2 linked regions of the Homo sapiens genome follow. The protein of the gene in region 1 interacts with the protein of each later gene in a pairwise test. Each region holds a gene or a part of one and is shown on either strand. Other genes may lie near its edges.

Region 1 (3,821 bases):
GGGGTTTCACCATGTTGGCTAGGCTGGTCTCAAATTCCTGGCCTCAAGTGATCCACTGGCCTCGGCCTCCCAAAGTGCTGGGATTACAGGCATGAGCTACCATGCCCAGCCTTCATTTCCTTCATTTCCTTTTCTTTTTTTGTTTTTCTTTTAGAGGGAGCCTCGCTCTGTCACCAGGCTGGATGGAGTGCAGTGGCACCATCTCAGCTCACTGCAACCTCCGTCTCCTGGGTTCAAGTGATTCTCCTGCCTCAGCCTCCCAAGTAGCTGGGACTACAGGTGTGCGCGACCATACCCAGCTAATTTTTCTATTTTCAGTAGAGACAGGGTTTCACCACGTTGGCCAGGATGGTCTCGATCTCTTGACCTCGTGATCCGCCCACCTCGGCCTCCCAGAGTGCTGGGATTACAGGCGTGAGCCACCGTGCCCAGTCTCTTTTTCTTCATAAACAGGATCTCGCTCTATCATGCAGGCTAGAGTGCCGTGGCATGATCGTAGCTCACTGCAGCCTCAAACTCAAGCGATCCTTCCACCTCAGCCTGCTGAGTAGCTGGGACTACACCCAGCTAATTTTTTTGACTTTTAATAGAAATAGGGTCTCACTATGTTGCCCAGGCTGGTCTTGAACTCCCGGCCTCAAGCAATCCTCCCACTTTGGCTTCCCAAAGTGCCGGGATCACAGGCAATAGCCACCGTGTCTGCCATGGTATGCAGATTCTTAGGGACATACATGTCCTCAAAAAAGTGTAGGCTGGGTGCGGTGGCTCACACCTGTAATCCCAGCACTTTGGGAGGCCGAGGTGAGTGCATTGTTTGAGCTCAGGAGTTCGAAACCCACCTGGGCAACATGGCGAAACCTCATCTCTACTAAATAAAAAAAATAGCAGGGCATGGTGGTGCACACCTGTGGTCCTAGCTACTTGGGAGGCTGAGGTGGAAGGATTGCTTGAGCCTGGGGGAGGGGTGGAAGTTGCGGTGAGCTGAGATTGCACCGCTGCACTTCAGCCTGGGTGACAGAGCAAGAAGACCCTGTTTCAAATAAAAAGGGGTGTGATGTGATTGCACCCTAGATGACCCATGGGCAAGCAGTTACACAGGTCCAAATCTGAGCACGAGTCGGATTTATGAGTGATCACCCAAACAGGGCCGTGCAGATGCATGCAATCCCCTGGATGGATACCCCGGGCGCTCAGTGTGCCTCCTGTATACACTCCTGGCCCCACAATCCTGTGTGTACACATGTGCATGCACACACACGTGCACACACACAGAGCCTGGGTGCCCGCAGGCCCGCATGCACACACAAGCCGTCTTGGTACCTTGGTGCTGGGGCCCTGGGGCCCTGGAGAGGCCGGGGGACTGCCAGCAGGAGCATCTCTGCTTCTAGGACTTGAGGGGGGTGACCCTGGGGACACACTGGGGGAGATGCAGAGGCTGAGGTGGGGTGGCTGTGCTGACTCCTGATCCCATGATCCCCAGTCCCATCACCAAGCAGAATGCTCACCTGGAGGTGGGGGATGAGGGGTCCCCGGGACTCCCACTAGGTGATGAGCTTTTCTCTCGGGCAAGCTTCCTAAGGATGGGGACAGGGGATGAGGCTAAGGCAGGAGCAGCCCTTGCTGATATCTGCCCACATCACCGCCCCTACACACACCCCGAGACTCACGCACTGAGACGCTTGGTGAGGCTGATCCGCCGTCGGATGCGTGGGGAGCTGGGGCAGGAGGCAGCTGGTGGCTCAATGACCCGGGAGAGCCGGTAGCTGAGGGGTCAATATGTGGATGAGGTGGTGGGGGCAGGAAATACAGGGGATGGAGAGATAAGAGTTGGAATCAGTTGGGAGGTGGGTTTGGGGTGTAAGGGGGAGCAGCCAGAGGTGGCACCCCACATGCCAGGGTCAGGGTGGTAAATGAGGGTCATTGAGCATCAAGGTCTTATCAGAGATGGGACAGGATGGCTGGTCAGGAGGTCACAAAGAGATTCACAGGGTGGCACTAAGGAATCAAATTGGGTCAGGATTAAAGTCAGGGTCAGGACTGGGTGCAGTGGCTCACGCCTGTAATCCTAGCACTTTGGGAGGCTGAGGCGAGAGGATTGCTTCGGGTCAAGAGTTCGAAACCAGCCTGGCCAATATAGTGAAACCCCGTCTCTACTAAAAATACAAAAAAAATTAGCCAGGTGTGGTAGCTCGCGCCTGTAATTGCGGCTACCGGGGAGGCTGAGGCAGTAGAATTGCTTGAACCTGGGAGGCGGGGGCTACAGTGAGCCGAGATCACTCCACTGCACTCCAGCCTGGGAAACAGAGCCAGACTCTGTCTCAAAAATAAATAAATAAATAAATAAATAAATAAATAAATAAATAAATAAAATAAAGTCAGGGTCAGACTGGGGTCAGGTCACCATTGGGGTCAATGGTTAGGGTCACAGTTATATAGAAAGAAAGGACACAGTTGTCATAGTCAAGCTGGACAGTCAAACATAAAAGTTGGAGTCAGTTACTCAGAACTGAGGGTCAAGGGTTGGGGTCAGAGAGTCAGATGAGGGGTCATGAATAAGGTCATGGGTCAGATAGGACCAAAGATGGGGAAGTCAACAGATGGGACAGTTGAGTTGAATGGCCAGCTGAATGCTAAAGTTGAGGTCAGAAAATCAGATGGGGTTGAAATTGAGGTCAGAGGTCAATTGTGACTATTTTTTTTTTTTTTTTTTTGAGACAGGGTCTCACTCTGTCACCTAGACTGGAACTGCAGTGGCGTGATTTTGGCTCACTCCAACCTCTGCCTCCCAGGCTCCAGCAATCCTCCCACCTCAGCCTCCCAAGTAGTTGGGACCAACGGCACTCAACACCACATTCAGCTAATTTTTTTTTTTTTTTTTTGAGACGGAGTCTCGCTCTGTTGCCCAGGCTGGAGTGCAGTGGCACCATCTCGGCTCCCTGCAAGCTCTGCCTCCCGGGTTCACGCCATTCTCCTGCCTCAGCCTCCCAAGTAGCTGGGACTACAGGCGCCTGCCACTACACCTGGCTAATTTTTTTTTTGTATTTTTAGTAGAGACGGGGTTTCACTCTGTTAGCCAGGCTGGTCTCAAACTCCTTACCTCATGTGATTCACCCGCCTCGGCCTCCCAAAGTGCTGGGATTACAGGTGTGAGCCACCGTGCCCAGCCACGTTCAGCTAATTTTTGTATTTTTTTGTAGATATGGGGTTTCGCCATGTTGCCCAGGCTGGTCTCGAAATCCTGGGCTCAAGTGATCCACCCACCTTGGCCTCCCAAGTGCTGGGATTACACGAGTAAACCACCAGGCCCAGTCTATTTGATTCGACTGGAGATACTGCAAGGTCACAGGTTGTAGTGGGGGATCAGGGCTCAAGAGGGGGTCTTGGGAGGAGCTGGAGGTGTGTATGGAGTGGGTGGAATCCAGTTGGTGACCCAGGCTCAGCTGGGGTGGGGCTGGGACAGGCTACAGGGTGGTCACCTCTGCTCCTCGGTGAGCTGGTTCTGGGCATGCAGGGCAGCCAGGATGGGCGGGTGGGGGCTCAGGGTGTAGCTCTGACAGCGCCTCTGCAGCTGCTGGATGCGGGCCAGGATCTCCCACTCCTGGAGGACGAGCCTCTAAGACCCTACCCCTGCCCCACCCCCACCCTCAGGCACCACCACACCCACTGTAGCCTCCACTCACCTTCCTCCTCTTCTCAAAGTTAATGAGATCCCCCTGGGGGCAAAGTGTGTCTGAATTGCAGCACCCAGGGTCAAGGGTCAAGGGTCAAGGTCAGGGGCTGGGATGTCAGGAGCCCCACTGTAGTAAGGGAGTGTGGGGTGG
Region 2 (3,821 bases), on another chromosome or scaffold:
AACCAATTCACATATCCCTTGTGTCTAGTTCTTTACATTGTGTTTAGGAGCACAGACTCTGGAACCAGACTCGGGCCTGAAATCCCAAATTCACCACTTACTCTGTGAACTTAATATGTCTTAATATATTTGTGCCTTAGCTTTCTTATGTGTAAAACAGGGATGATAATAGTACGTTCCTCATAGGTTCTTGTTAGCATTGAGTAAGTTACTATGTGAAAACTTTTAAAACCAAGTCTTTGTACATAAGTGTTTACTACTATTTATTGTTTGTTTTCCTTTCCAGTTCGACTAAGAACTTCTTGGGTCAGGTTAATAGAGGTGCCATTTAATTAGAGCTGTGTCCTTTAGGGTCCCAACAGGAAACAGATGCTATACTCAAAACAGGACAATTTTAGAAGAGTTTTTTTTAATAAAGAAGCTGTTTACAAAGGCGCAAGTTCAGAGAAACAACAAAAGACAGTGAAATAACCTGGATCTAGGACATAAGCTATTAACAACCCCTAAGCCTGAAGGGACAAGGTTGAGGAGTGGTTACTAGAACCTTAAAGGAAAGAGAATCGTGTAGAGTCACTGCCTTGAGAGAAACCTTGACCTTTGGTTGGGCTGATCCCAACCAGAAGCTAGAAGGCATAGGAAGCCCTATTGACACAGTTCATATAGGCCAGTCTTCTGAGCCAGAGAGCAGAGTGGAAAAAGGTACAGAGTGAGTTGGGAGGCAAATGAAAGATGTCCAGTACAGAGCTGTCAGAAATAGACAATGGTAATTACAACAGGACTGTGAACCTTGGGGGAGATATTTCAGACAAAATATGATTCTTCCTGTCACCCAGAAAATAACAGAATCTTTTTGGTTTTCCCCTTAAAATTCTTATTAGTTATTATGTACTTGTGTTTGCATAATCCCTGGAAGGGCATCCAAACTATGTAAAAATAGTTAAATGTAAGCGCTGCGATAGATGGGAAATACTGCTCAACATATCTGTTTATATCATTTGATTTTTGATCCATCTAGTATGTTATCTATTTTTCAAGTAAATTTTAAAAATCATTTCTGGAAACCGAGAGCATGGTTACTACCAGCAATACTCCTGGAATCACAGGGCTTTGCAAACTGGTTTTCTGTAGTCAGAAGTTAATTATTTGCATGTGCTCTTTGTACTCTTATAGTATTACAGGTATCCCCAGTGCCTAACTCTGCTGTCTGCTATATTTCAGCCTTTCATCCGCTGTAGTTTACAATGCAGGGATCTGGTTGATGAAGCAAAGAAGTTTCATCTGAGGCCTGAACTTCGGAGTCAGATGCAGGGACCCAGGACAAGGGCTCGCCTAGGTAAGCTGGTATCTCGGCAGAATGAGGGGATGCTTTTCAACTACTTCTTGCAGGTGACAACATAGTTGAAAATAATACTCTATAAGAAGTACAGACACCTCGTTTCAGACCTTTTCTTCTATCATCTCAGACAAGTCACTTTACCACTCTAAGCTTTCTTTCCTATAAATCAAGGATGTCTTCTCTATCTACTTCACATAATTATTTGGAAATTAAATGAGATAAAATATAAAAGCACTTTATACATTGTCAGGCATTACATAATATGTTACAATTTTTTGTCAATATTATTTAGATTCTGTGAATTAGAGATAATTTTAGTGCCACATAATGGCAGGTAAGTAGTATATGCTTCCACCCACCTCTTCACTTCCCCTTATGTGGTTTTTCCATTCCGGAATGAAGAGAGGAAGAAAAGGAGCCCAGTGTGGTAGAAAGTACATGGGTTTTGGCAGTTACTGTTGGTGCAGGTACCAGTTTACCTCGTACTAGATTTATTAACTTGGGCAGGAACCTTAACCTCTGTGTGCTTCAGTTGCCTCATCTGTAAATGGAATCATCGTAGCACCTGCCTGTAACATTGTTATGAAGAGTAAATAAAGTTATTTATGTAAAGCCTTAAAACACTTCTTGGCACATAATAACTATGTGTATTAGCTATTATCTTAGCAAATAGACCTAGGTTCAAATCCAAGCCCCAGCAATGACTGGTTGGGCAAGGTATCAATTTATCTGAGCCTGTATGTCTACCACTAAGATGAGAGTTAGTGTCTTATCTCAGTGTTGGGAGGATTGAATGAGATAATGTATATAAGATACCTAACACTATAGCTGGCACACACTAAATACTCAGATATCACCATACTTTCCACTTCCTATTCTCTTTGCTTCACTGTCCAAAAGCCTAGGTGTATAGTGTATAAAAACATTTTATAAGTTATGAATTACTCTATATGTATGGGGTGGTATTTTGTTTTATTGTTTCCTTTTATCTGACTGAGGACTCATGATGCGTGCTAAGGTGTTAGTTGATAATTAAGCTGCTCACTGATGGGTTTAGGTAGAATGGTGATTTATCCGCTATATTTTATTTTTTTTAATAGAAATGAGGTCTCACTATGTTGCCCAGGGTGGAGTGCAGTGGCGTGATCTCGGTTCACTGCAGCCTTAGCCTCCTGGACTCAAGCAGTCTTCCCACCTCAGCCTCCCAAGTAGCTGGGACCGCAGGCACGTGCCACCATGCCTGGCTAATTTTTATATTTTTTTGTAGAGACAGAGCCTTCCTTTGTTGCCCAGGCTGGGTCTTGAACTCCTGGACTCAAGCAGTTCACCTGCCTTGGCCTCCCAAAGTGCTGGGATTACAGGCCTCCCATATATATATATATAATTTTTTTCCTTTTTTTTTTTTTTTTAAGACAGAGTCTTGCTCTGTCACCCAGACTGGAGTGCAGTGGTGCAATCTTGGCTCACTACAACCTCTCCCAGGTTCAAGCAATTCTTGTGCCTCAGACTCCCGAGTAGCTGGGACAACAGGCGACTGCCACCATCCCTGGCTAATTTTTGTATTTTTGGTAGAGACAGGGTTTCTCCATGTTGACCAGGCTGGTCTCTAACTCCTGGCTGCAATTGATCCACCCACCTTGGCCTCCCAAAGTGCTGGGATTACAGGCATGAGCCACCATGCCTGGCTCCCTCTCCTATATTTTTTAATGGCATAAGTACTGCATGTTCAATGTAGAACTTGTAGAAATACAGAGAAGCAAAAAATAAATAAAAATCATCCATAATCTTACCACTCAAAGATACTGCATTTTTTTAAAAAGAGAACTTTTAGATAGGGCATTGTAGATGGTATTTTCTACTACTGCAAGATGACAAAATGTGATCTGTGTTTCATATGCTTTATACACAGATACATATCAACACAAGATAGATTGAAGGACTGAATGGTGAAAAACTATGAGAATATTAGAAGAAATTATAGGAAAATATTTGTATACCTTCTGGATGGAAGTCTTTTTTTTCTTTTTTGTAAAATATATGTAACAGGCCGGGCACGGTGTCTCACACCTGTAATCCCAGCACTTTGGGAGGCCAAGGTGGGCAGATCACTTGAGGTCAGTAGTTCGAGACCAGCCTGGCCAACATGGTGAAACCCCATGTCTACTAAAAATACAAAAATTAGCTGAGTGTGGTGGTGCACACCTGTAATCCCAGCTACTCTGGAGGCTGAGGCAGGAGAATCGCTTGAACCCGGGAGGCGGAGGTTGCAGTGAGCCAAGATTGCACCATTGTACTCCAGCCTGGGCGACAGAGTGAGACTCCATCTCAAAAATAAATAAATTAATTAAATAAAATATATTTAGCATAAAATTTACCATCTTAACCATTTTTACATGTACAGTTGACTCATGTTAAATACATTGTTATACAATCAATCTCTGTAACTCTTTTTGTCTTAACAAGACTGAAACTCTGTACCCATTAA

What was found.
Region 2: the proteins of RGL3 (region 1) and KLHL12 interact in binary tests that used the Homo sapiens proteins (3 or more experiments, as listed by UniProt).

The regions. Positions count from the first base shown.
Region 1 is NC_000019.10:11,398,535-11,402,355, forward strand, and holds part of RGL3 (ral guanine nucleotide dissociation stimulator-like 3), read right to left. Parts: intron 3,714-3,821; coding exon 3,681-3,713; intron 3,599-3,680; coding exon 3,477-3,598; intron 1,764-3,476; coding exon 1,668-1,763; intron 1,575-1,667; coding exon 1,506-1,574; intron 1,436-1,505; coding exon of another isoform or gene 1,418-1,435; coding exon 1,321-1,417; intron 1-1,320.
Region 2 is NC_000001.11:202,906,522-202,910,342, reverse strand, and holds part of KLHL12 (kelch-like protein 12), read left to right. Parts: intron 1-1,218; coding exon 1,219-1,333; intron 1,334-3,821. UniProt on the Homo sapiens protein: Substrate-specific adapter of a BCR (BTB-CUL3-RBX1) E3 ubiquitin ligase complex that acts as a negative regulator of Wnt signaling pathway and ER-Golgi transport.